7 linked regions of the Homo sapiens genome follow. The protein of the gene in region 1 purifies or fractionates together with the protein of each later gene. This does not show direct contact. Each region holds a gene or a part of one and is shown in the gene's direction. Other genes may lie near its edges. The genes, in order: NEMP1, ACAD11, FBLN2, RGPD5, RANBP2, DLGAP5 and PIP4K2B.

Region 1 (4,036 bases):
AGGGTCAGTTCCCTTACCTGTGAACTATGTATGTTCAGAGTAGCATTATTCCTGCTAGCTAGGAGAAGTCATCTTGTTTAGGGGATTTGGATGCTTTTTATACGTTCTCCATTTTCCTGTCATTGGGTCATGTTATCTTTGAGTTGCTATGAAATCAGGAAACTGTCTCCTTTTCCTTTCCCTTCCTTTGTCTACATGCTCTGTCCATTCCTTTCAGCCTTTTCTCACCACCCATACTCCCCCAAATCTGGGTAATTTTTAAGCCTTGAAACTATGTAGTTTCTTGATACACAATTTGTAGTTATGCAGCAGCCACAATTTGCATTGCCAGGAAATAGGCTCCAGGTTATCTTCATGCCTCTGGGTGCTCATTCAGCTGTCAAGTTTCCATGAACTTACACTTATTTATGATTGCGTTTCTGACCTGAGATGTATGCTGCCTGTTATTGCAGTAGCATTAGTTTCAGATTCTTTTGCCATTGCAAAGTACCCCTTATAAACCAGCAATGTCATCTGTGAGGAAGCAAATTCTCAAGTGTCTGTCATTTACTTGGTTCTTTTTCTTTGTGGTCTTCACCCTTATACCCTGGAAAAGTCTGTAATTACCTTAGCCAGGAAGATAGATGGTCATGGCAAGCGCACAGCACCAGACTTACTGGCTCACCAAGATGATGGAAAAAGGCAGATGATTTTTTAAAAAGCCGTAATGACTCCTTTAGACCAGCCATTTAGCGTGGTAATTTTGAAAGGCCTAGCTCCATTGCAGACTTCCAAAGGGTCAGCTCTGAGACTGCCCTCCAGGTGGGCAGTTGATTATTTCCACCAGTGTTTTCCAGAGCCTTAAACTGTCCTAAGTGACAACTACCTCAGTTGGCAGGAAAGAGACATATAGTAGAAAGTGAAAAATGAGCAGTATTTGGGCAGATGCTATGGGTTACAGTTGAAGGGTAAAAGGAACTTTACATTGGGAAACCTTTATACCCTTGTGAATTATGTACATGGTAAAATGTTCTCTCTCTACAAAGAACTATTAAAACTTCTGAAATATACTATTTTTTACCTTATTTATAGAAATTGAGACCTAGCATATTTAAGCATAAGTTTATTTTAAAAAATAATTCAACTCGTGCAAGTGGTCTCAGGATTCTCTGGAGATTTTGGTGCCTCCCCTACTTAGGGAGGTGATAGCTTGCCTATAAGGGTGACTTTTCCTGATCATGTCTTTATTTCAATGAGAAAGCACTGTGAAATTGTGAAAGATTCTCCTCTTTCTCTGTTTAATAAACCCCCATGAAATATAGTTTCCATCTCTAGACCAGTTTTTTTTCCACCGTGTTTAGACTTGAGGTGAATAAAATCAAACTGTTTTTTACTCCCTATCTGGTAGTTGGAGACCTGAGCTGTAGGCAGTGGAGATGGCAATTGGTTCTGCAGCCTGAGAGTTGCTCTCACACAGTGAAGGACGGTGCTGCTCTGGTGTGCTGTGTGTCCTTGCCCTGCCTGCCTGTGGCTCTGCCCAGATGCTTCAGATCCTCTGTGTTCCGGAGATTGCTTGACTTCAACCTTCTTTAGGAGCTGCTCTTGTCTCCCTCTTGGCCACTTAGTTTGCTGGCTCAGTCACTACTTGAAGACCCCATTTAATTTTTCTCTGGCAGTTATAGCTCTTGTGATTTCAGTACAGTCTCATCTCTCAGACCAATCTCATCAAGAAGGATTGAAGGGATAACTATGAGGTAAGCTGGACATTGGAGCCGTGTTTGCTGCCACGTCAGCGTCTTGCTGGGTGAATGTCAAGCCATAAATGGGCTCCAGGGCTCTGGATCTCATCAGCATTGGAAATCTATTGCCTCTCATCAGTCTGACCAAATTATGTAGAGCATTAATGTAGAGACTCCCATTAATGGGAATACAAGAGGCAGCTGGCATAAAACATTTCTTTCACTTTCCTTTCCCACTCAGATTGCTTCAAGAGACCAACAGAACACAGGGATCAAAAACAAGGAAAATTTAGCAACTTCATTACCTTCTAATAAGTAATTCCTGTTAGCCACTGCATCCCACCAAAACTAGTTTATTTTTCCCCTCAAATTCATGATTTTTACGTCTGTTACAAAGGGAATTTTGCTGATAGCTCTTTGGGTCCCACTGTTCCATTTTATGCTAATAGATTCCATTCTAGGGCCCAGCCGTCTCTTGACTGATGGTGTTCCCTTTAACCCTTGGCATGTATAATAGAATTTTGGTGAATGAAAGAACCCAAATAGGCCAGATAGTCCCCCCAGGCCCTGATATCCATAAAAGGCTTGGGAATGCATTATGTAATTGTCCTTAGTCTTTTTGTTGTTTTAGAAAAAAAAAACAAGATGGGCTCAGATGGATGCCTACGTAAAAATGGTTCCTAGCTGTGTACTCATAACTTTTCTTTGAATTGAGTAGTGAAAGGAAGGAGGAGGAAAGGAAATTAAATGTCCTTCTAGTATTCTCTGGACTCAAGTCTGACATATGAGATAATAACCTATATTGAAATGCCAAGAATTGTATCTGAAACAAGAGAACAGTTTGACACATTTATCATGCCTTCATATTACATATTAACTGAAACCAATTAATAAACATATGAAATATCCATTGCACAAGGCAAAGGCACCTAAACCTTTTGTTTCTTTTTCTACATAGCAGAAATTGATTTTTTTTTTATTTTTTTAGGGGAACCTATATAATTATGACCCAGTGATGTCTTTTGGTGACTTAAGCTTATGAATTCAGGTTACAATTGAGTTGATTCTAGATGGTTACTACCTTGAAAAGGATGTTGGTGCCTTATGTGACACGAGCCAGAGCCTGCTGGGAATAAACAAAGCAGATTCATGCCAACACCAACTCGTAGCTTTAGTGGCAGATGGGAGTGGTCACAGACTCCCAAAATGTGGGGCTTTGGATTTCCACACCATCCCACGTGTGTGTCATCTTCCTCTTTCACACTCTTGATGATAATTTGAAAATGGTGAAATCACCTCTGAATTTGCCTATAGCATGAGCACATTCTTATGACAACATAACAAATAGTTCATAATGTGAATATTAGAAACTGTTACAGCCTGCAGTTACCATAATTTTCCATGTTTGTGGAATTGATATTGAAATAGCAGGGCTAAGGAATTACTGGCAAGTTTTAGCCTGTGGGTAATACCTTAGGGTTATTTAAATATTTGTAATTTTATTTAAATGTTCATGAATGTTTGAAAGGAACAAAATTATCAGGGATGGCTCTTTGCCATGGGTCTTATTTTCACCCTCTTTTCTGTAAGAAAAAAGAACAATGTCTTAATGTATTTTTAAAGTTTTTGGTATAGTTTCTAATTCCAATTTTAATAAAAGTTTTATAGATATATTGTGGTCTTTCTTAATGAACATAATATTTTCTTGTTTGGATTTCTTGTTTTCAGGTAATCAGCAATTTACTCCTCAGTTTCATCTTTCTAATGAGATGGTTTTGCATGCCACTGATTTCCCTTTTTTTCTTAGCCACCCCTTCCTGTCCCGAGTCTGTACTGGTCTACTTTCATCCTTGGACTGGATGATTTCCCAGGATGCAAAATCTCTAAGGGGTATTCTTGCAGGAGCAGCAGGTTGTACTACCATGCTGTCTCATAGAAAAGCAAAATACAGGTTATTCTTGGCCCAAGGAACTACTCTGATTATATTTTAGTTCTTTTTTTTTTTTTATGGCATAAAGTATCTCTTTTGTTTGTCCATTGGGATGGGGAGAAGACCTATGGCTCCAGCTATGGGATCCCTACCAAGAGCTCTGTATAGGGTGGAAGAGAGAGTAGGGCTGTAGTGAGCCTTATGTGTATTGAATAAAAACTTAAATTATGTCTAGGCCCAGCTTCTACCATAGGAGTCTGGTACCTTTCATTTTATGTATTGGCTACCTTCTTTGCTCTGGGAATCCTTTGTAATATTCATATTAACTCTGTACCTATGTTTTTTCATCTCATTAATTAATTATTATTATTATTATTTGAGACAGTCT
Region 2 (4,211 bases), on another chromosome or scaffold:
TCTGTTATCTGGGTGTGTTAGTCCATTTTATAGTGCTATTAAGGAATACCTGAGACTGGGTGATTTATAAAGAAAAGAGGTTTTGTTTGGCCCATGGTTCTGCAGGCTGTACAAGCCTAATGCCAATGTCTATTTCTGGGGAGACCTCAGGAAGCTTACAATCATAGTGGAAGGTAAAGGGGGAGCCAGCACATCACGTGGCAACAGAGGGAACGAGAGATAAGGGGGGACATCCCAGACTCTTTTAAACAATCAGATCTCATGTGAACTCATTACTGAAGAGAAGGCATAAAACCATTTATGAGGGATATTCCCCCATGACCCTCCCACTAGGTTCCACCTTCATGTTTCAATATGCGATTTGGAGGAGACAAGCATCCAAACTATATCACGGTGTCTCTTTATTTTTTAAAAATTAATTTTGAATTGTTCCAGGTTTTTGGTATTATGGGTGATTTATAAAATTGAAACCTGAACAGTTTTATACTGTGAGACTCTGGACCTTTTTAAACCTTCTTGGCTTTCTTTGACACCATTCTGTCAGAGAAAGGAGTGGCATCACCTCATTACTGCTAGGCAGAGAGAGAAGTCCAGGTTCCCCTCCCAGCTTCCATCAGTACCTGAAGAGGATGATGCCCTCATACTGCCAGGTGGGATGAAAGTCCAGGCATCCCATTTGGACTGCACTAACAACCCATAAGATGGGTTGGGGGGACTTATTACTGGCCAGTGGGGAGGAAAGCCTCAGGTTTTTACTTGGCACTGTCTGATACCTTCCTGGCAGGGGAGCTGGGGCACCTCATTACAGTGCTTGCCAGGGTGGAAGCCTACGCTCCCCATCCTGCCTTTGCTGGTGTGAGGAGTGGTGGGGGCCAATGTTTTTTCTGTGGTGTTTGGCTGGAGTAAAGTGGTTATTCTCTAAAAGATTTTTGGCTTGCTAGGCTGCATCTTTCCTGATCCTTTGGTTAGAGAGATTATACTTTTGTTGGGGTGCTTTATGTTTTTGTTTTGTTTTGGTCTGTGCTCACTGACATTTCCAGGTTACTAGATTCTTCAGCTGCCGGGAAGAACCTCAGCAGCTGAGATATATGAGGCAAAAAGAAAACCTAGGAAACACACCACTAGGTTATTCTTTTGGACCTGAAGTCCCTAAATAGTCTGCCTTTTCTCTACCTTTCAGAGTCTTCTTATGTTTGTTTTATAGATAATGCCCAGGGTTATTAGTTGTACTTAACAGAAGGAATAGAGAAAAATATATCGATTCCATCCTTGTTAGAAGCAGAGGATATCAGACATACTTATTTTCTTAGTCTGTGTAGGCTGTCTGTAAGCCACAATGCAGAGCTCTCTGGGAAAACATGGATTGGAGAATGGGGTCTGGAGCCAAGGCTGAAGTAGAGTCTCCTCCATTCCAGATCTAGGACTTGGGACCCACACGCTCTAGTATGTGTACAAAGCACATAAAGTTAACAATTTAGATGAAGTAGACCAATTCCTCAAATCCCATGAACTATCAAAACTCACCGAAGATGAAGTAGATAACCTGAATAGTTCTACAACTATTGTTAGAAGTTGAATTCAAAGTTAAAAAGCTGCTGAAAAAAGAAATCTTCAGGCCCAGATGGTATTACTGGTAAATTCTACTAAACAGTTAGAGAAGAAGTAACACCAATTTTACATATCTATTCCAGAAATAGAGAAGGAGGAAACACTTGTCAACTCATTTTATGAGGCCAGAATCATCCTAATCCAAAACCAGACAAGAACAAACCATAGACCAATATAGATGCAAAAACCACCAGCAAAGTATTACCGAATAGAATCTGGCAGTATGTAAAAATAATCATACAGCATAATCAAGTAGGGTTTATCCCACAAATGCAAGCCTGATTCATGTCTATAACTCGATAATTAAAAATAAATTATTATAATCTGCCAAACTAACAGCAAAAACTGCATGAACATTAAAAAAATCACATGATCATATCAATTGATGCTTTGGCATTTGACAAAATTCAGCATCTGTTTATGATAGAAACTTTCAGCAAACTGGGAATACAAAGGAATTTACTCAACTTTATAGAGAGTATTTTTAAAAATCTAACATCATACTTAATGATGAAAGACTAAATGCTTTTCCCCCAAAACTGGAAATGAGGCAAGAATGTTCACCCTCACTATTCCAATTTATGATCATAGAAGAATTCCTAGGCAGTGCAGTAAAACAAGAGAAAAAAAGTGCATGTAGTTGGGGGAAAAAAGAAGTAAAACTGGGCCTGCTTGTAGATGACAATGTGATTGTATAGAAAATCCTAAGGAACGTATCAAACAAAACGAAACAACCCTCCCAGAACTAATAAGTGAGTTTAGCAAAGTCACAGGATACAAGGTCAGTACGTAACAATTTTATTTTTATATACAAGCAATGAACAATGGGGGAACTGAAAGTTTTAAAATACCATTTACAACAGTTTTTTTTAAGTACTACTCTACCAAAACACGTACAATATCCACATGCACTAAAAAGTAGAAAAAAGTGATATAATAAATCAAAGGAGACCTAAGTAAATATGTAGATTAGAAGACTAACAGATTAAAGATGTTAACCATCCTCAAATTGATCTGCAGACTTAAGGCAGTTCCAATCACAGTCCCAAAAGGACAATTTTGTAGATAAAGACAGACTGATCCTAAAATTTATATGGAAATACAAAAACACTAAAGTAGCCAAAACAATTTGAAAAAGAAGAAAGCTCAGTGAATCACACTACCTAATCTTAAGACTTACTCTAAACTACAGTAATCAGTGAGCAAAAGGCATGTAGATCTTTGGAGCAGAAGAGAGAGTCCAGGAATAGATTCATAGAAATATAGGCCAATTAATTTTTTACATAGGTGCAAAGGCAGTTCAATGGAAAAGGTTACATCTTTACAGTAAATGGTGTTGCAGCAATTGGACATAGATAGGCAAAAGAGGGACCCTTGATCTAAACCACACACCTCACACAAAATTTTAACTCTAAATGGATCATAGATCTAAATGTAAAAGGTAAAGCTGTAAACTTTTAGAAGAAAACATAGTGGAAAAATCATTTTCTGGGATTAGGTAAAATGTTCCTAAACATGCACCAAAAGCAAGGCTCATAAAAGAAAGAATTGACAGATTTCTCATGTGGCAAATGACTAGCGTCCTGAATATATGAAGGACTCTCTAAATCAAATAGTAAGAAAACAACCCAATTAAAAAATGGACAAAAGACTTTAACAGACATATCACCAAAGAGGTATAGAGATGGCAAATCAGTACATTGAAGGGGATCAACAGCAGTAGCCATTACAGAAATGCAAATTAAAACCATGATATCTCTGCACACTTAAAATGACTAAAATAAAATATGATACTAAGTGCTGATGGTTTGAGGAGCAACTGGAACTCTCATACACTGCTAGTAGGAATGCAAAATGTACAACCACTCTAGAAAACTGTCAGCTTCTTAATAAACATTTACCACTGACCCAACAATTCTACTCCTGCTATCTGCTTTAAAAAATGAAAACATGTCCACACAAAAACCCGTATACAAATACACAGAAACTCTATGAATAATCTCGCGATGGCTCACGCCTGTAATCCCAGCACTTTGGGAGGCCGAGGCAGGCAGATCACAAGGTCAGGAGTTCAAGACCAGCCTGGCCAATATGGTGAAACCCTGTCTCTACTAAAAAATACAAAAATTAGCCAGGCATGGTGATGGGCGCCTGTAGTCCCAGCTACTCAGAGGCTGAGGCAGGAGAATCGCTTGAACCCAGAAGGTGGAGGTTGCAGTGATCTGAGATGGCGCCACTGCACTCCAGCCTGGGCGACAGAGCCAGTCTGTCTCAAAAAATAAATAAATAAAATTTAAAAACTGGCAACAACCGAAATGTCCTTCAACAGGCAAATGGATAAACCAACTGATACATACTTACAATGGAATACTACTCAGCAATAAAAAGGAATGAACAGTCAATACACAGAACAATTTGGATGAAACTCAAAGGCATTAAACTGAATGAAAGAAGTTGGTCTCAAAACAATACATGCTATATGATTCTATTTACATGACATTCTGGAAAAGGCAAAACTATAGTGATGGAGAACCTATCAATGGTTGCCAGAAGTTAGGAGTGAGAGGAGCCTGTGACTAAAAAGGGGCAGCACCAGGGAGTTC
Region 3 (4,211 bases), on another chromosome or scaffold:
TCTGTCTGATCATCTATTCATCTATCCATCCATCCATCCATCCATCCATCCATCCATCCATCCACCCACCCATCCGTCTGTTCATCCATCTGCTTATCCATCCATCCATCCATCCATCCATCCATCCATCCATCCATCCATCCATGCATCCATCCTCGTTGTCCTTGGTGTCACCCCCTTCTTCTTCCCTTCTTGTGCTGTAGCCACTGTTCCAGCTGCCATGTCCAGTCCCTGTCCCCTAGCCAGGGCTGTCTCCTGGACCCATGACCATTAGCCTCCTCTGTGCCTGGTGGGTCTGCAGGAGCCTGATGAGGGTGCCCCAGTGAGTCAGCAGATGTCCTTTTTGTACATGGGCCTTGGTGGCCCTGGGGCTGGTGCCGTGAGAGTCCTGGCAGGCCTGCTTTGTTGGTGTCCACATGTTCAGCCTCAACTGGTTGGGGACCAGATGTCCAGGTAGGTTCCAGAACCACCAGCCCAGTTTTTTCGCTGTTCCTATGGACCGTCATCTGGGGCCCCTGTGGATTTGTCCTGGGCACTTCATGGAGTGGGAATTAAAGCCACAGATGAGGTCCTGGTATCAAGATTAAACTCTTGGCCTCTGGAGTCAGGCAGACTTGGTTGGAATCCTAGTTCCTTTGCTTACCTGGGGCAGGTCACACAGAAGGAAGGCTCCTTCTCAGAGCCTTCACTGTGGCATCTGTCAAATGGTCTTGTATTCTTTACCTTGTTCAGTGCAAGGATGAATGATAGGATGCCTGTCAAGGGCTTTTGGCAGTGCCTAGTGATGCATTCAGCATTGCCACCACTGTTGCTGTTACCGTTGCCGTGCTTCAGCAGCTCAGAGGGGGAAGATGAGGCCCAGAGAAGGGCAGGATCTTGCCCCAGGCACATGCCGGGTCTTTGGCACAGCCAGGACTGGACACCTTGGCTCTAATGACTCCCACTTCTGCCCCAGCCTTCCTGATGCCCTGAGTTTTATCTAGACCCAGTCAGCCTTGGTTCCGATTGACCCAGATCTCTGTCACTATAATGCAAGATGGCAGAAGTCTGTGCATAGGGGTTAAGATGCCTGCTGTCCACAGGTGCCAGGGCTCAGGAGATCCTACAGGAAGAGCTCATATCCTGTGTGGTACAGGTGGGAGAACAGATACCTGGATCTCCCATCAGGGTGAGGCAGAGGCAGGGGTGAGTGTGTGGGGGTTGGACCAGGCCAGACCTGGGCAGATCAACCAGAACAGATGTACCAACCACCCTTGCCAATCCAATGTGGGTACAGAGAGTAAGTCCAGTCCAAGGAAGTGCTACTTGCTGAGATTGGCTCTAAGGGGAATGGTTGAGTACTGGTGTGAAGGCCAGGTTAGTACCCAGAAGAGTCTGGCTGAAGGTAGAGTTTGGGAGGAAGTCCGGCTTCAAAAGTCAAAGGCAGGTGGGTGGAAGGGAGTAGGTGGGCAACAGAGCCAGGCACGATCCTGGCCAGAGATCCATGCTTCCTCCTGTGAGGAAGATGCTGGTGAGGGTGAGCTGAGCCTGAATCCTGGAGGTACTGTCTAGCCTGTGGTGTGCTAGGAGGAGCCCTGGGTCCAGGTCTGTCCGCCGCCTGCCTGCAGTGCTGAGTCTCTGCGGGACCAGACCGCCAGCCATCATGGCCCTGCCTGGAGGCACCGGCTGGGACTGATTGGGCTGCAGCTTAATGTAAACACCCTCCATATGAAACACGTTCCTCATACGTGACTTCATGCAGCTACTCTCTCTGTGGGCTCTGCTGCCTGGGTGGGGTGGGAAGGAGGCCCTGGGCTGGCACAGAGCTTAGAGGGGCTGTAGGCCTCCCCCTGAAGTCCTGGCTGCATGCTTTCCCCACAGTTGTCATACAAAGAGCTTCCCAAGGCAGCTCAGCCTCAGGAGCCTTCTTTTCCACTCTCACCTGCTCCCCAGCACAACCCTGGGAGATGGGTTTATTCCAGAATCTGGAGGCACAGAGAGGCCTAGTGCTGCCCAAGTTGACCCAGCTAGGGAAGGCCCAGGTCAGTGGTCACATCTGATCCAATAGAGCCCAGATTTGGAGCCCTTTCTGCTGCTAAGGATGATCCTCCTTGATGTCACTGAGGTCAGGGGTCTGAATCCATTGTAACACTTTAGTGAGAGCTTCTTTGTGGATCTGACCCTGTCCTATTGTAGAGGACTCAGTGATGAAGACTTGGACCTGGCTCTGATGGGTTCATTCTTACTGCTTGAGGTCTGTTCATTCATTTGCCCATCCATTCATCAATCCATCCATCCATCCATCCATCCATCCATCCATCTATCCATCCATCCATCCATCCATCTACCTACCTACCAGTCCATCCATCCGTCTGTTCATCTGTCTGTCCACCCATCCATCTACCCATCCACTCATCCACTCTTTCATCTACCCATTCATCCATCCATTCAGCCCCACACCCATTCATCCATCCATTCACGTATCCATCCACCTACCCATCCTTCCATTCACTCATCCACCCATCCACCCACTCACCCATCCATCTATCCATCTACTCATCCATTCATCTACCCATCCATCTATCCATCCACCCACCCATCCATCCATTCAGCCAAATACTCATTCATCCGTCTACCCATGTATCCATCTATCCACCCATCCTTCCATCTACCCATCCATCCTCCTTCATTCATCCACCCATCCAGTTACAACCCATCCACCCATCCATCCATCCATCCATCCATCCATCCATCCATCCATCCACCCATCCACCCACCCATTCATTCACCCACCCATCTACCCACCCATCCACCCACCCATCCATCTAACCATCCATCCATCCATCCATCCATCCATCCATCCATTCATCCACCCCCCCCACCCCCCCACCCATTCATTCACCTACCCATCCACCCACCCATCCATCTACCCATCCACCCACCCATCCACTCACTCACCCATCCATCCACCCATCCATCTACCCATCCATCTATACCCATCCGTCTATCTATTTACCTGCCCACCCACCCATCTATCCATCCATCTATCCACCCATCCACCCACCCACCCATCCATCCATCCTGCTTCATCCATCCTTGCTGTCTGCTGGGCACACAGAGGTCTTGATGAGGACCTGCACTAGTTTCCCAAAGCTGGTTGTCTCAGCCACCTACTCTGACCAAGCTGGCTCTGTCTTGAGCTCTAACCCCTGTCCTAGTTTCAGAGGCAGAGATGGCGGGCCGAGAGGCCCTGTCACTGGGCACAGAGGCCGAGCTGCCGAACAGCCTGCCGGGCGATGACCAGGATGAGTGCCTTCTCCTCCCGGGAGAGCTGTGCCAGCACCTTTGCATCAATACTGTGGGTTCTTACCACTGTGCCTGCTTTCCTGGCTTCTCACTGCAGGACGATGGCCGCACTTGCCGCCCAGGTAAGGGCCCTGATGGCCAGGGCAGGGGCTATGGGAAGGGCTGATCTTGCCAGGGGGTGTGGCATTCCTGGGGTGCACACTGTGGGGTCCTTCACTTCCTGTTACCCCACAAGTTGGAACCCACAGAAGCCTGAAGCTTCCAGTGATGGGGGATTTGTGAGGCAGGAAAAATAGAAGCTTTCTTCCTGGGGCTCCATCTGCAGGGACCTGGCCCCAGCACCTTGTCCCATATTCGAGCGCAGGGACAGGCTCAGGCCACAGAGGCTCTCACCAAAACCCAGCTATCTCCCCAGTGCTGGGCCCATGGTGATCCTGAGGGATTTCCTCCCAGTCACTGGTCCCAGAATTGATTGGTTTTTAATCCAGACACTCTTTTTCCTTTCCCCCCTCTCTTCTTCCTTGCCTCCTTTCCTTCTACCCCCTCTGCCCCCAGTAGCTGAGATTGATCTTTCCCAAGGTATATGCACACTCCAAACCTCATTTTCCTCTCCTGTGAAATGGGGTGGGGGATTAAATGTCAGTGCCCTGTGTGAGAAGGGCAGGTGCCTGGAAGTGCCTGAGGCCTGGCTGAAGACCTGAGACCTCCCTGCAACCCCCACTCTGCTCTACCCATGACAGAGGGTCACCCTCCACAGCCGGAAGCCCCACAGGAGCCTGCACTGAAGTCAGAATTTTCCCAGGTGGCCTCTAACACCATCCCGCTGCCACTGCCGCAGCCCAATACCTGCAAAGGTAAGCAGTGTGGGTGGTGTCTCCAGGACAGGGCCCAGGGTCCAGGGGGTGGGTCTGGGCTGCTTGCAGGTG
Region 4 (3,162 bases), on another chromosome or scaffold:
CACTGTGAGGCTGAAGTGGGAGGATCACTTGAGCCCAGGAATTTGAGACCAGCCTGGAAAACAGTGAGACCTGCATCTCTACAAAAAAACAAAAAATTACCCAGGCATGGTGGTACACACCTTGTGGTCCCAGTTGCTTGGGAGGCTGAGGTGGGAGAATCACTTGAGCCTGGGAGATCAAGGCTGCATTGAAGTCTCATCACGCCACTGCACTCGAGCCTGGGTGACAGAGCAAGACCCTATCTCAAAAAAAAAAAAAAAAAAAGAACCCCCCCCCCCCACCAAAAAAGGCATGTGATCAGTAAAAAAGACATTATTTGCTTATATTGTAGAGTGGTTCTAAAATATAGATTTTACATTGAGAAATTTTAATACTCTCTTTTTTCTTTTTTTTTTCTTTGTTTTACTTTCTAAAGATGAGGAAGAAAATGCTTCCCGTTCTTCTGGATGAGCATCCTATCTTCGTAGTTGGTTTGGACTTCGATAGGTTGATGGAAGGAATACTTCTATTAACCAAATAGAATCTGTTTACAAAAATGGTTCGTGTGTGTTACCATTATTCTTTTGTCAAAAAGTGTGTATATATGTTTGCATTTACATATATTTGTACATCTGTATGACAGATGTATTTTAAAAGTTTCAACTTGAAGTAAAAGTACAACAGCTTGAAGTGTTGATACCAGGCCACAGCCCTCTAACTCATGTGATCTCCCATGCATGCTGCCAGAATAAAACCACCAGGAATGAATTCACTCCCCACTTCTCTGGAACCTCAGGACCCGCCCATTTCTCGGCAGTACTGTGAATTTTGAAGTTAAACTAAATTTTGGTACCATACCAACTGGAATTTAGGCTTTAAAAATAATGTTTCAAGGCCAGGTGTGGTGATTCATGCCTGAAATCCCACTACTTTGGGAGGCTGAGGCTGGAGAATCGCTTGAGGCTAGTGAGCTGTGATTGTACCACTGCACTCCAGCTCGGGGAACAGAGCGAGACCTTGTCTCTAAAAATAATAATAGTAATAAAAATAACGTTTTATGACTATTTATTGCAAGGTCAGATTTACAGATTGTTATAAATTGTTGAGAAATTTTTGTGATTAGAATATGAAGGAAAAAGCTTTGTTGGTAAAAGTGACATGTTAAGGGGCTATGAAGTAAATATGCTGCAGTTAATTGTGCTAAGTTAAAATACAGTTTAGTTATTTGCTTTAAAATAAACTCTTCTTTTTTTCTTTAAAGTATACTACCTCAAAACTCATTATGTTGTCAGAGCCCTAGAGCTGGCTAGTGTAACACTGACTATGAGTAGGTGGGCCCACCACTTGAGTTGAGGTGATTTCATGGTGTCTTTCCAGGCTCTTGATAGGGTGTCACTGCATGCAAGCCATGAATCTGTTTTGAGAATCCTCTCCATTTTCCCAAATAAAAACCTATCCCAACAGTGACTATATCACTCAGCATTGGATCTAAATATAAAAGTGGTGCTTTCAGTGTTTTTGGCAGATAGTGTTCCATAACCTTTCCATCAGAAGGGATTTTAGACACCTTAGAGGTCCGTGCTACATCTTCACAGTTCCTCCGAATAACCTTAGGTGGTAGTGTTACTTGCCTTTGACACCTGTGCATATGTTTTAATGACTAGATCCAAACTGTGTTGTTCTTAAATCAAAAATTGGATAATTTTTAATATTTATGTATTAATCACACAGTGTGCTCTCTGAAGTTCTCTTAAGCCTTCAGTTTATACTCTTAATTTTCTTTCTGAGCTGGGGAACTGACTTTGCACTTTGGTTACACAGAACATTGGTTTCCAATTTAGTTTAACTGAAATTTGCTGCTGATATGTTGAGTTTGTTCTTTAAAAAATATCTCATATATCTCGTCTTTCCTCCTTAGAAGAACAGACCTAACTAGCGAATGTATGAATGAAAATGCATCTATTTCAGAGCCGACATGAAGAGTTTAGTTTTTTTACTTTATAAACTGTGAATATGAGTATGCCAGCTGCATTAGATGTAACTAATCATATTTAAATATATTTCACTTTGACTTTAGACCTTTTGAAGTCTGTATAAACTTGTTTTGAAATACAGTCTCCACTTACGAATGTCATAACAAAATACTTTTTTGCATGATAAAAAATTACTTTGATTACAAAAGGCATATTCTTTCATGGTTTCTGCAATGAGAGGAAGTGTAATGATTATTTTAATATTTCTATTAAAACTGTATATTTTTATGGCTGCTCTTTTATGTTACCCACTGTCTCTTTGGGGTTGTTAATTGGTTTCTGAAAGGGAACTTCAAACTCCTTTACTACTGGCCTTCCATGGTTGGTCCCTATTAGGTTGTTGTGAGAACGTCGACCAACTCTTTGATACCCGCCAGGTAGACCGTAGTACCTGCCATGTCTGACACCCTGCATCCAGCTAAAACCAGAAACAGCGCTGGGCCTCCCTGTGGACAAGACATTGATTTGACCAGAAGCAGATGTCTGGCTAAGGCTGCCAACCAAAGGGTGGCCTTAGATGAAGGGCTTTGTTCAGTTAGGGGCAGAGGTCATTAATTTTTTTTTTTTTTTTTGAGACAGAGTCTTGCTCTGTCGCCCAGGCGTGAGTGCAATGGCGCGATCTCGGCTCACTGCAAGCTCTGCCTCCCAGGTTCACGCCATTCTCCTGCCTCAGCCTCCTAAGTAGCTGGGACTACAGGCGCCGGCCACCATGCCCGGCTAATTTTTTGTATTTTTACTAGAGACAGGGTTTCACCGTGTTAGCCTGGATGGTCTCGATCTCCTGGAGGTAATTTATTTCTTTGGATGTTTGGACTAGGAGATGGGGAGAGGCAGAGCAGAAAGAGAAACACAGATGCCACAAGGAGGAGGAACAGAGCTAACCCTGGATAGGACTGGACACAGCAGCCAGACCAAGAGAGGCATCTAGTGAGAAGCAGCTCTTCAGCCCTGGGCCTGGTGCACACATCACTCCTTGGTTTCTAAGAACCAAATTTGGCCCAGCACAGTGGCTCATGCCTGTAATCCCAGCACCTTGGGAGGCCAAAGCGGGTAGATCATGAGGTCAAGAGATCAAGACCATCCTGGCCAACATGGTGAATCCCCGTCTCTACTAAAAACACACAAAAAATCAGCTGGGCATGGTGGTGT
Region 5 (4,211 bases), on another chromosome or scaffold:
AAATAGATAGGCTCCTTGTTACTCAGTGTAGCCTCTTTGAAGTATTATGTCAATATTGGACACTAAAGTGAAAAGTAGGCAGTACTCACATATCGGGAGGAAACCATGCCTAAATAAGCCTTATGCATTAACATTCACTTCTCACTACCACTTGTCATTTTTATTCACCAAGCTCTTGTGTATTGAATGCTTACTTTAGTTAATTTAGATTGTGCTTGTTAAAAATAGTATTTGAAACTGTAAATGCCTTGCAGTCAGTTTTGTTTGTATCCACAGGTTTTCATAGGGAATCTTTATACTTTTGTAAATTTCCAGATAATTTAGAGTTTCAATCTTATTTTCTCTAATGTCTCAAAGCTTGCCAAATTAATTATTCACTTACAGTAACATTACTGTAGGCCCAGTTATGACCTGTGAGACCCAGATATTGATATATTACAAATACTTTTACAAGTGGGTGATTCTAATGTGTTCCCAGGGTAGAGAACCACTATTTTGAAATAATTTTGAATTCTTCTGCCACATGTCCCTTGGGGTTATTTTTTAAATTTTTGCTTTTGGCAAAAAAGTTGCTGAACAATTTTGTTTTTGTTTTTGTTTTTGAGACAGGATGTCACTCTGTTGCCCAGGCTGGAGTGCAGTGGCATGAACACAGCTCACTGCTGCCTTGACCTCCTGGGCTCTAAAGCAATCCTTCCACCTCAGCTTCCCAAGTAGCTGGGACCACAGGTGTGTACCACCATGCCTAGCTAATTTTTACATTTTTTGTAGAGACAGGGGTCTCACTATGTTACCCAGGCTGGTCTCAAACTCCTGGGCTCAAGCAGTCCTGCCACCTTGGCCTTGCACAGTGCTGGGATTGTAGGCATGAGCCACTGCACCTGGCCCTGAACAGTTATTTTTGAGCCCCCAAGTTGGTATCTCATCCAGATCAGTGGTTACTGTTCTCAGGAAGTTCCCATGCAACCTGTGGCTTTTGTTCTCAGATCATTCCTTTGCAATATGTCCTTAAGAATTTTTGTCTTTCTGTCTCTTTTTTTTGAGACGATCATTCTGTTGCCCAGGCTGGAGTGCAGTGGCGCAGATCTCAGTTTACTGCAACCTCTGCTTGCTAGGTTCAAGTGATCTCCTGCCTCAGCCTCCTGAGTAGCTGGGATTACAGGCATGCACTGCAACACCCCGCTAATTCTTTTAGTATTTTTAGTAGAGATGGGGTTTCGCCATGTTGGCCAGGCTTGTCTCGAACTCCTGACCTCAAGTGACCAGCCCGCCTCGGCCTCCTAAAGTGCTGGGATTACAGGCATGAGCCACCACACCCGGCCCTCTCTCCTCTTTAAAAACATTTTTTTTTCCCCTCCATTAAATCTGTCTGAAAGAGAGTTGATTTTTTATTGTGTTCTTTAAGGTACTGAGTTATGTATCCTGTGACATTTTTTCTTTTTCATGAGAGTTTTTAGCAGAAGGTGTAGGGTTCTTTAAGACAGTGATTCAGCAAGTGATAAAAAGTTGAGAGGTGTTTCTTTCCTCTAAGATAGTGGGGACTTGGTCATCTAAATTGAGGTATGGGATGGAGAAGTTTCTAGTTTTCACCTTCTTGCAGGTATGCGAGAGTGAGACCATCATTGTTCCCCCATACAGAAGTAGGATGCTTAACAATCTAATACCCTTTGGGCAGTTGAAGTCAGTGAGATTCTCCCAAGGCTGCTTTCCACCAGCCCAACCAAGAAATCTACATTCCAGCATTAGCTTCTTCAGGAAGAAGTAGAGATGCAGAAATTATAAACATGTTTAGGCCATTGTGGCTAATTTGGAAGTAGCAGGTTTGGCCTGCTGAGCTAAGTTTACAAAATTTCAAGGTGGGTACTTGAAATTTTAGAAGTAGGTAAAAAGAACCTACTTCTTTACTTGGAAGTCCTTGTGTAGTTTAGTATTAGGAAGTTTATCCAAGGCAGTGACAGTCTTATCTTTGTATCGCTAAGCATAACAATAATAAATGTACTCTGTACTCAACAGTATGAGTTGAATTTACTAGCTTTTTTTTTTTTCCTTTTTTTCCTTTTTTTTTTTGGTGACAGAGTCTTGCTCTGTCACCCAGGCTGGAGTACAATGGCACGATCTCTGCTCATTGCAACCTCCGCCTCCCAAGTTCAAGCGATTCTCCTGCCTTAGCTTCCTGAGTAGCTGGGATTACAGGCACCCGCCACCACGCCCGGCTAATTTTTTTTTTTTTTTTTTTTTTAAAGACAGAGTCTTGCTCTGTCGTCCAGGCTGGAGTGCAGTGGGGCGGTATCTGATCACTGCAACCTCTGCCTCTCAAGTTAAAGTGATTCTCCTGCCCCAGCCTCCTGAGTAGCTGGGATCAGTCACCCATGACCACACACTGCTAACTTTTTTTTTTTTTTTTAAAGACAGAATCTTGCTCTGTTGCCCAGGCTGGAGTGCAGTGGGGCAATCTCAGCTCACTGCAACTTCTGCCCCCCAGGTTGAAGCGATTCTTCTGCCTCAGCCTCTCAAGTAGCTGGGACCACAGGCGCATACCACCACTCCCGGCTTTTCTTTTCTTTCTTTCTTTCTTTTTTTTTTTGAGACGGAGTTTCACTCTTGTTGCCCAGGCTGGAGTGCAATGGTGCCATCTTGGCTCACCGCAACCTCCGCCTCCTGGGTTCAAGCGATTCTCCTGCCCCAGCCTCCCGAGTAGCTGGGATTACAGGCATATGCCACCATGCCTGGTTAATTTTGTATTTTTAGTAGAGACGGGGTTTCTCCATGTTGGTCAGGCTGGTCTTGAACTCCTGACCTCAGGAGATGCGCTCACCTCGGCCTCACAAAGTGCTGGGATTACAGGCGTGAGCCACTGCGCCCAGCCTAATTTTTGTATTATTAGTAGAGATGGGGTTTCACCATGTTGGCCAGGCTGGTCTCGAACCCCTGACCTCAGGTGACCTCGGCCTCCCAAAGTGCTGGGATTACAGGCGTGAGGAATTTACTAGAATAATATAATTTTAAACATTTAAAATTGATGTACATATTACATCATCAGGAATTAGAGGGATTGATAAAATAAGAGGGGGATGAAAAATGTAAAAAATAGATACTAGTGTTTAAATATCCTGATTTATTCATCAGATAAAAATTTCCAATGGGCAAATACTGGAGCAGCTGTGTTTGGAACACAGTCAGTCGGAACCCAGTCAGCCGGTAAAGTTGGTGAAGATGAAGATGGTAGTGATGAAGAAGTAGTTCATAATGAAGATATCCATTTTGAACCAATAGTGTCACTACCAGAGGTAAATGTTAAGGAATTAACCTTTTACTAATAACTTATTTTTCATTTTTAAGTTTTACCCTGGCTTGATCTGTCAGGGTATAATTGTTTGCATTTAAGAATGTTTACTGTTTGAAATGGAAGCTCTATTTATTAGATGTCTAGCCTTTAAGTATAAATTATCTTTTTACAGTTTTTACATAAATATTGGTTTGTAAATTCTATATGTAATTATTGGTAAGAAATAATTTTTTCTTATGTTTCTAGAATATCATGTTTGTTTTTATAACATGATTCTGGGGAAAAATTAACCTCATACTCACTAAAGTCCTTTCAATAAATGTTAACCTTGTATGTTTTTTGGACAAGAACATTGTTCTAGGAAAATTACTTTGTCATTTTTTAACCTCAGTCAGTAGCTAATATTTCTCTTCAGTAGCAAACACTTTTGAAACCTCTCTGTCCTATAAAGAAAAGCATTTAATTTCCAAAGGGAAAATGAATATTATATAAAAGAAAATGTTTAATGATAAATCAGGTCTTTACTCCCTCAGCCAAATCAGATATATTCCTAGCCCTAAGATATATAACCAGTTATCACATTAACAAATTCTCTTTGTCATCACAAAGAAAATGCCTTAAAAGAATTTGGATCTTTGAAATTTGTCATGGAATTTATTATAAGCAGCAGCTTATAGAGAATTTCATCTCCTATTATAGGTAGAAGTAAAATCTGGAGAAGAAGATGAAGAAATTTTGTTTAAAGAGAGAGCCAAACTTTATAGATGGGATCGGGATGTCAGTCAGTGGAAGGAGCGCGGTGTTGGAGATATAAAGATTCTTTGGCATACAATGAAGAATTATTACCGGATCCTAATGAGAAGAGACCAGGTTTTTAAAGTGTGTGCAAACCACGTTATTACTAAAACAATGGAATTAAAGCCCT
Region 6 (4,211 bases), on another chromosome or scaffold:
TCCGTCTCTACTAAAAATGCAAAAAATTAGCTGGGCATGGTGGTGGGCGCCTGTAATCCCAGCTACTCGGGAGGCTGAGGCAGTAGAATCGCTTGAACCCGGGAGGCCGAGGATGCATTGAGCCGAGATCACGCCGCTGCATTCCAGCCAAGGCGACAGTGCGAGACTCTGCCTCAAATAAATAAATAAATAAAAGTGTTGATAGTAGAGATACAGGTAACTCTCTTGAAGAATTTTGCCTTAAATGGGACTAGAAAAATAAGTGCTAGATGAGGATGTAGGTTGGGAGAAATTACCGCATGCTTGTAACTTCATAATGGCAACAATTCAGTAGAGGAAAAAATAGATGAGTAAGAGGATAAGTTGCTGGAAGAATGTCCTTGAGTAGGTGAGAAGAAATAGAGTACATCTATTATAATAAATAGCACCTATAATTGTATTAGTTATCCCAAAACTTAGCAGCTTAAAACAATAAATATTGATTATTTCATACAATTTTTGTGGGTCAGGAACTTGGGTATGGCTGAGCTGGGTGATTCTGAAGATAGCAGCCAAGATGTCATCCAGAGATATATCTGAAGCCTTAACTGAGACTGGAGGATCTGCCTCCAAGATGACTGACTCACATGAACAGCAAGTTGATGCTGGCTTTTGGAAGGAGGCTGTAGTTCTTTGTCATGTGGACATCTCCATAGGACTGCTTGAGTCTTCTTAAGGCCCCACATGGCACCTGGCTTCTCCCAGAGCAAGCGACGCTTCAAGAGAGAGCAAGGCAAACACTACCCTAGTTTTAGAAGTCATATTCCATTATTCCTGTAATACTCTCTTGGTCACACAAGTCAGCCCTATTCAGTGTGAGGGGATGACACAGGGCAAGACTACCAGGAAGTGAGGATCAGTAGAGGGCAGCTTGGATGCTGGCTATCATACAAGTTAATTAATTTAAAAGTGAAGTAATAAATGCCTATTACATAGCAAGCAGTTAATATTTGAACACATGAAGGCAAAATGAATACAAATTTTAAAAGACTAGGGGTTGAAATAACTTGTGGTTAGAGTGCTAAAGAATTAACAAGAAATATTAAAAGCATTTCCCTTTGTGCGGAGAGGTCTTGCTTTGTTACTCAAGCTGAACTTGAACTCCTGGGCTCAAATGATCCTTCCACCTCAGCCTTCCCAGTAGATGGGACTACAGGTGTGTTACTGTGCCTGGCTTATTGAAAGCCTTTTTTTTTTTCTTGAGACGGAGTCTTGCTCTGTTGCTTAGGCTGGAGTGCAGGGGCGCAATCTTGGCTCACTGCAACCTCCATCTCCTGGGTTCAAGCAATTCTCCTACCTCAACCTCCCGAATAGCTGGGATTACAGGTGACCGCCACCACACCCAGCTAATTTTTGAATTTTTAGTAGAGATGGGATTTCACCACGTTGGCCAGGCTGGTCTCAAACTCCTGACCTCAGATGATCCGCCCTCCTCAGCCTCCCAAAGTGCTGGGATTACAGGCGTGAGCCACCGTGCCTGGCCTGAAAGCATTTTTTAGCAGCAGTTGAAATGACACAAAAATAATTGTTTATACATTTGCATAACTTTTCATCTGAAATGTTTTATATACTGTGTGGTTTTGGTTTTTTTTCTGCCTAGGGGCAATGAAAACTATTCTAGGTGATCAACGAAAACAGATGCTCCAAAAATACAAAGAAGAAAAGCAACTTCAAAAATTGAAAGAGCAGAGAGAGAAAGCTAAACGAGGAATATTTAAAGTGGGTCGTTATAGACCTGATATGCCTTGTTTTCTTTTATCAAACCAGAATGCTGTGAAAGCTGAGCCAAAAAAGGTAAATTTAGTGTCTTAATATAAAGGAATAGTTTCTTTTATTTGGTATTTTCTTCAAGACATTAAGTGACTAACCCCTTTCCCTTAGTCTCATTATTAACTGGTTGGTAGAAGGTGGGAATGACATAATAGTAGCTCAGAAGAATGAAAATCAGGTCTCTTAAGATAGCTGTAGGTAAGTTGAGATAGGATAAAACTAGGAAAATTGGTAGAATCAGGCTGAACAATGTTATGCAAAGGATTTGGTGTTTATCCTGTAGGTTTTGCAGAATCAGGAGAAGTTTATAAATAAGGGTAGTGCCGTTGTCAAATTAATAATTCAGGAAAATACCATAGCCCTAAAGATTTTAGTCTGGAAAGGGAAGCATTTATAGATAGGGAGACCAATTGTGAGACTATTGTAATAGAATAGATGGAAAGGGGCAGTGGGTTTTAAAAGGAAAAAATAGGTGTAAGACATCTAAATAAAGGCATTTGACAGGACTGGTGGCCAAGTAGATGGTGAGGGGTAAAGGAAATTGAAAAAGCAGAGAGAAGCTCTGCTGCTAAAAGAGATAAGGAAGATAAGGAACAAGCTTAAGTGGGTGCATGTTAATAACCTTTTTAAAAATCTTAAACTTGTGTGGGCCACCTAGATATTAGTAAAAATTTGGAAAGAAGGATGGAAATTGGTGCTAAGATGTCGATTTAGGATATAATATTGGGAATATGGATGAGTGTTTAAGCTGTAGGACTAAATGAGACCATTCCAATAAGGATATATAAAATTATGAAAAAGTGGGCTCTAGAGAGCACTTTTAGGTAGGCAGAAGCCAGGTACCAGGCTGAGGACTGGTCAGAGAGGCAGGAGAACTAAGAGAGGATAGAAGCTCATATTAATGATGATTCCAATACCTGGAAAATACGGTTTGAAATTTCTTTCTCACTGAGAAATGTGAGTAATTTTTGAAGTTACTAACTTAATTTAAATCAAGCTAGAACCAGAAAAAGGAATTTAAGTATCTTTTTGCTATAAGAGATTAAGGATAAAATTTAACTTTAAAATGGGAACTTTATTTTGTAATAAGATATGGAAGTAAACCTTTACCAGTTCATATTTTAAGTTCATCTTCTTTTGACTGTTCTAAGGCTATTCCATCTTCTGTACGGATTACAAGGTCAAAGGCCAAAGACCAAATGGAGCAGACTAAGGTATAGTTGATAGTAGATAATTGTTACTAAAATGATAAATTGCACTTTTTTAGTAAGTAAATTCATTTTAAATCTAGTATCAGATTCAAACATAATGATTAATTTACTAGAGTTAACAGGTACCAAAGTCACTGTTTTTAGTATGGTGATGTAGAGCAATTTCACTTAAAATATTTGCTCCAACATTCCGTATGAGATCCATGGCAAACTGTCTTTGTGTCACACTCTTGTTTTGTTTAGTGGGCTCCTATTATGCATTCCAAGTTACCTGCATGAAATGCATATGGGGAGGAAAGCACACAGGGTAGGTGTTATAAACTTACGGGTCTTCAAAATACTGTAATAGAGATATCAGGAGGGTTACTAAAACAAAGTGAAGTGGGCAAGAAGGGAAATAATATGCCTCTTTATCAGGTGAGGAAGCTAAGTTCCACGTATGCATATATATTTTGCATTGCTATGATGTTCCTGGTGTTGTAGGCTTTTGGATATAATAAACTAAATTCTCTTTGTGGAACTTACATGTAAGGCATTTAAAAAAATACATAATATGCCAGAAGATGATAAGTATTATGGAAGAGATTTTAAAAAGGGGAGATGGGGTGTACTAGAAATAGGTATGGGGTAGAATTTTGATTGGGCAGTTAAGGAAGGCCTCCCTGAGATGAAAGCCTTTTGAGTGAAGTCATTATGGAAGTGGAGAAGAGAACCATGGGAAAGCGCTTTTTATCCAGGAGAAGTATTTTCTAGGCAAAATTAAAAGGTCTTGAAGTGAAAGTATGTCTAGGAGTGTTTAAGGACCTTCAGAAGGCAAGTTATAGTGAGCTGTTTTTAATAGCTTGGGTTATTAGCATTTTCCAAATTCTGTGATTGTGAAAAAGGATGTAAGCTTTTTTGGAAGCTTAATGGAAAGCTTTTCTTTATCTCATTTTATTTGGGGTAGTTTTTTGTTGTTGTTGTTGGGTCATTTACGATGATCAGATTTCATATGAGGAATCAATTTACAGATTAAAAATATGATGGTCTGATTCATTATGCAATTAAATCACATAGCACCTAATCTCTTAAATAGATTGATAACGAGAGTGATGTTCGAGCAATCCGACCTGGTCCAAGACAAACTTCTGAAAAGAAAGTGTCAGACAAAGAGAAAAAAGGTAGGAATATTAGCAATTACTATAAATCCTC
Region 7 (4,211 bases), on another chromosome or scaffold:
CAAAACTCCGTCTCAAAAAAAAAAAAAAAAGAAAAAATCTTCAGAGATGGCTGGGAGCAGTGGCTTACGCCTGTGATCCCAGCACTTTGGGAGGCCGAGGCAGGCGGATCACTTGAGGTCAGGAGTTTGACACCAGCCTGGCCAACATGGCGAAACCCTGTCTCTACTAAAAATACAAAAATTTGCCGGGTGTGGTGGCATGCGCCTGTAATCCCATCTACCCAAGAGGCTGAGGCAGGAGAATGGCTTGAATCCGGGAGGCGGAGGTTGCAGTGAGCAGAGATCGCGCCATTGCACTCCAGCCTGGGCGACAGAGTGAGACTCCGTTTCAAAAAAAAAAAAATCTTTAGAGAACATTCCTACTCAGGCCTTTGAATGAAGTTTCTTTTAGCAGGCCTTCCCACCTCACAGGGAGCAGTGGGACTCAAACAGCAGGAGAAGGAGAAAGCAAGATATGGAAAGGAGGAGTAAACACCGGTAGATTTATTGGCTCCTGTGGCCCTCTCTTCCTCTCTGGAGTTGCAGTTCTTGCTTTGGACCTCCTCGGTCCTGTGAGTGTATTTCTAGCATGTCATGTTTTCTGATGGTGGCAGGTAACAAGTGATTGCTGGTGGTGGCCAGCCCACTGCTGAACCGACAGCAGAGGACTGGAACATGTCAGGAAACCTGCATGCCTAGTCCAGGCATCCTAGGTAACAATTCCTATGAAGGTCGCACAGGGAAGTGGAGGCTTCTGGACACACAAGTTCACCAGACTAGAACTAGCTGCTGAATTTTCATCTCCATGTTGCATATTGCAGAATTTTCTTCTTTTTTTTAAAGGCTGAATAGTATTCTGTTGTATATGTACAACAGAATCATACCTCTCACTTTGAGAGACTGAGGTGGATGGATTGCTTGAGCCCAGGGCTTTGAAACCAGCCTGGGCAACATGGCGAAAACTTGTCTCTACTAGAAATAAAATTAGCTGGGCATGATGGCACACCTGTAGTCCCATCTACTAGGGAGGCTGAGATGGGAGAATCACCTGAGCTCAGGAAGTTGAGGCTGCAGTGAGCTGAGATCATACCACTGCACTCTAGCCTGGCCTATGGAAGTGAGACCCTGTCTCAATCAATCAATCAAGGAATTTTCATCTCCAGTAGATCAGCATAGAGTGAACTCATTGCTTTTTTTTTTTTGAGACGGAGTCTGGTTCTGTCACCCAGGCTGGAGCACAGTGGCATGAACTCGGCTCACTGCAAGCTCCGCCTTGTGGGTTCACGCCATTCTCCTGCCTCAGCCTCCCGAGTAGCTGGGACTACAGGTGCCCGCCATCATGCTCCGTTAATTTTTTTTTGTATTTTTTTTTAGTAGAGACGGGGTTTCACTGTGTTAGCCAGGATGGTCTTGATCTCCTGACCTCATGATCCGCCCGCCTCGGCCTCCCAAAGTGCTGGAATTACAGGCGTGAGCCACTACGCCCAGCTCTGCAGATGTCTTTTTGGTTTTGTATCCCCAGCTCCTAGCATATAGTAAGGCCCTTAATACACTGAGTAGAAGTAAATTGAATAGAAATTTGGCAGTCTGGCTGGGCGCGGTGGCTCACGCCTGTAATCCTAGCACTTTGGGAGGCCGAGGCAGGTGGATCTCCTAAGGTCGGGAGTTCGAGACCAGCCTGGCCAACATGGAGAAACCCCATCTCTACTAAAAATACAAAATTAGCCGGGCATGGTGGTGCATGCCTATAATCCGAGCTACTCAGGAGGCTGAGGCAGGAGAATTGCTTGAACCCGGGAGGCGGAAGTTGCGGTGAGCACGCCATTGCACTCCAGCCTGGGAAACCAGAGCAAAGCTCTATCTCAAAAAAAAAAAAAAAAAAAAAAAAAAATTGGCAGTCTGAGCCAGATTAGGAAAGGCCTTGAATGCCAGGCTAAGCAGTTAAAACTTTACCCTGAGGTTGAGAGGAGCAGCCATGGAAGATTTCTAAGCAGGAGTGTAGCATGATCTTGTAGATTCTCCTAATGTCAAGTGCTCTTGGTGCAATACCAGGAGAGGCATTAGGTGCCTTGTTTCTGGCCTGATGTATGAGGACTGGGAGCCTGACCCTCTGGCCATGCTAGCCTCATCCTTCTCTGAGCCTCTGCTGTTCTTGATGTCTGTATCCCTGGATTCTCACTTAATTGCATACTGCTTTGACTTTGAGGGTGTCAGGGTTTTTTTTCATCTCCCTGATGAGATTATAAGCCTCCTGTTTCTTTTGCATGTACAACACTTTCTCCCCTTGTGTTCTCCTCCTCCCACACACCTACCTAACAGAATGAAGCACGTAGCAGATATTTCAATAGGAACAGTTCAATTGAAATGGAATAGAACTCTCTGGGATATAAAATTTCACACAACTAAAAAAATAATAATAATAGGGCTAATCCCTACAGTGAATCATCTACATGTGGCCTAGTAGAAATGAGGGGTAAGTCTCCCCTAGTTGAGATATGGATTGTTCACCAATGTTAGCTGAGTTAAAAATTTCCTAGGCTGGGCCAGGTGCAGTAGCTCACATCTGTAATCCCAGCATTTTGGGAGGCTGAGGCAGGCAGATCACGAGGTCAGGAATTCGAGACCAGCCTGACCAACATGGTGAAACCCCATCTTTACTAAAAATACAAAAATTAGCAGGGCATGGTGACATGCGCCTGTAATCCCAGCTACTCAGGAGACTGAGGCAGGAGAATCGCTTGAACCCAGGAGGCAGAGGTTGCAGTGAGCGGAGATTCTGCCACTGCACTCCAGCCTGGGCAACAGAGCAAGACTCGATCTTCTGACCTCGTGATCCGTCCCCTTAGGCCTCCCAAAGTGTTGGGATTATAGGCGTGAGCCACTGCGCCCAGCCGAGCCCTGAACTCTTTGTCTCTGTTTTCCCTTTAAGTCTCGGAGCCAGGCTTGATATGCCAGGAAAAAGGAAATGGGACAGCCACCACGAATTGTTTCTGTTGGCAGAAAAACAAAGAAGTGGAATGGTTTCCTCTGTAGGCACAGATTTGACAGTCACATTCTCTTGTGAGCACCCCCTGGAATAGGAACTGGCATGACTCTTCTGGGGTTTTTTTTGGCTATTGGGAGGGTTTAGCCAATGAAGGGTATCACAGAGCTTGATGCTGGGAATTTAAAAATCAACTTTATTGAGGAATAATTTATGTATATTAAGTGTGCGTATTTTAAGTATACAATTTGATGAATTTCAGCAAATGTATTTGCTCATGTAACCATCACCCCAAGCAACATATAAAACATTTCTGTCACCGTAGAATCACACTTCTCATGTCCCTTTACACTCAGCACCCCCCGCCCCCTGGCCAGGCAACTCATCTCATTTCTCTCATTATAGATGCCTGCTGTAGAATTTCATATAAATGGAATTATACAGGATACACTCTTGTGTCTATGCCAGTTTTTGCCAGCAGTTTACCTAGTGTCTGCTCCACTGCCAACTTATAAACTACCCTGCCCCCAGCATCCCTCTCAAAGCACGTGCATTCCTATGGCTTCCTTCATTTCTCCATGAGTAAATTGGGTTTTTTCCCAACTCTAGGAAGATATGGTTCCCCAGCCCAGTTACTGCATTAACTTGAACTTCCTCCATTCTCTGACATTTCTAAATAAAAAAGGTTTGTAACATAAAAGGAGCAGCAAATTAAATGCCATTTCCCCCATTTATGCTCCTGGAGGAGTTCTAATGACTCTAGGTTATCCCCTCACTGCCACCTGGGGCCTCATTGAGATAACAGGATTTGCAAGGAAAGTGGGAGACACAAGGCTGTGCCCCCTCCCCCCAGTCCATTAAGTCAGGACTAAGGTTTCCTCTGTAAATCCTGAATGCATTAGTGGCAACTGGGTTGAGGGTCAAATGTCAAATACTCTGCTGTGATGGGAGAGGACATCTGTGGTTAATTAGACCACTAACTGGCTAAACTCGAGGTGGGGAAGGGCAGGATCTGCCCTCATCTCTGCACCAATGGAAAGCTAGCTCTCTGTCTAGGATCCAGCTCCCTGAAGGGATGAAAGTCAGAAGGTTTGTTTGCAGTAGAGGCAAGGCATCCTGCCCCATCTCCCTTAGTTTAGTGTATGGCAGGACTTGACATCAGGAACTGGCCCTGCTTTATTTTATTTTCTTTTTTGAGACAAGATCTCACTCTTGCCCAGGCTAGAGTGCAGTGCAGTGGTGCAGTCAG

The links.
Region 2: the proteins of NEMP1 (region 1) and ACAD11 purify together in Homo sapiens (co-immunoprecipitation; 3 studies listed by BioGRID and IntAct, with this or other methods). This does not show direct contact.
Region 3: the proteins of NEMP1 (region 1) and FBLN2 purify together in Homo sapiens (co-immunoprecipitation; one large-scale study listed by IntAct). This does not show direct contact.
Region 4: the proteins of NEMP1 (region 1) and RGPD5 purify together in Homo sapiens (affinity purification with mass spectrometry, with the first as the bait; 2 studies listed by BioGRID). This does not show direct contact.
Region 5: the proteins of NEMP1 (region 1) and RANBP2 purify together in Homo sapiens (co-immunoprecipitation; 3 studies listed by BioGRID and IntAct, with this or other methods). This does not show direct contact.
Region 6: the proteins of NEMP1 (region 1) and DLGAP5 purify together in Homo sapiens (affinity purification with mass spectrometry; 2 studies listed by BioGRID and IntAct, with this or other methods). This does not show direct contact.
Region 7: the proteins of NEMP1 (region 1) and PIP4K2B purify together in Homo sapiens (affinity purification with mass spectrometry; one large-scale study listed by BioGRID and IntAct). This does not show direct contact.

Annotation. Positions count from the first base shown.
Region 1 is NC_000012.12:57,054,996-57,059,031, reverse strand, and holds the end of NEMP1 (nuclear envelope integral membrane protein 1 isoform a precursor), read left to right. Parts: 3' UTR 1-3,389; downstream 3,390-4,036. UniProt on the Homo sapiens protein: Together with EMD, contributes to nuclear envelope stiffness in germ cells. Required for female fertility. Essential for normal erythropoiesis. Required for efficient nuclear envelope opening and enucleation during the late stages of erythroblast maturation.
Region 2 is NC_000003.12:132,561,795-132,566,005, reverse strand, and holds part of ACAD11 (acyl-CoA dehydrogenase family member 11), read left to right. Parts: intron 1-4,211. UniProt on the Homo sapiens protein: Acyl-CoA dehydrogenase, that exhibits maximal activity towards saturated C22-CoA.
Region 3 is NC_000003.12:13,614,879-13,619,089, forward strand, and holds part of FBLN2 (fibulin-2 isoform a precursor), read left to right. Parts: intron 1-3,197; coding exon 3,198-3,407; intron 3,408-3,502; exon of another isoform or gene 3,503-3,670; intron 3,671-4,025; coding exon 4,026-4,139; intron 4,140-4,211. UniProt on the Homo sapiens protein: Its binding to fibronectin and some other ligands is calcium dependent. May act as an adapter that mediates the interaction between FBN1 and ELN.
Region 4 is NC_000002.12:109,855,446-109,858,607, forward strand, and holds the end of RGPD5 (RANBP2-like and GRIP domain-containing protein 5/6), read left to right. Parts: exon of another isoform or gene 1-244; intron 245-416; coding exon 417-451; 3' UTR 452-2,260; downstream 2,261-3,162.
Region 5 is NC_000002.12:108,778,143-108,782,353, forward strand, and holds part of RANBP2 (E3 SUMO-protein ligase RanBP2), read left to right. Parts: intron 1-3,126; coding exon 3,127-3,287; intron 3,288-3,985; coding exon 3,986-4,211. UniProt on the Homo sapiens protein: E3 SUMO-protein ligase which facilitates SUMO1 and SUMO2 conjugation by UBE2I. Involved in transport factor (Ran-GTP, karyopherin)-mediated protein import via the F-G repeat-containing domain which acts as a docking site for substrates.
Region 6 is NC_000014.9:55,181,182-55,185,392, reverse strand, and holds part of DLGAP5 (disks large-associated protein 5), read left to right. Parts: intron 1-1,639; coding exon 1,640-1,833; intron 1,834-2,960; coding exon 2,961-3,023; intron 3,024-4,095; coding exon 4,096-4,180; intron 4,181-4,211. UniProt on the Homo sapiens protein: Potential cell cycle regulator that may play a role in carcinogenesis of cancer cells. Mitotic phosphoprotein regulated by the ubiquitin-proteasome pathway.
Region 7 is NC_000017.11:38,789,066-38,793,276, reverse strand, and holds part of PIP4K2B (phosphatidylinositol 5-phosphate 4-kinase type-2 beta), read left to right. Parts: intron 1-391; exon of another isoform or gene 392-551; intron 552-2,908; exon of another isoform or gene 2,909-3,039; intron 3,040-4,211. UniProt on the Homo sapiens protein: Participates in the biosynthesis of phosphatidylinositol 4,5-bisphosphate. Preferentially utilizes GTP, rather than ATP, for PI(5)P phosphorylation and its activity reflects changes in direct proportion to the physiological GTP concentration.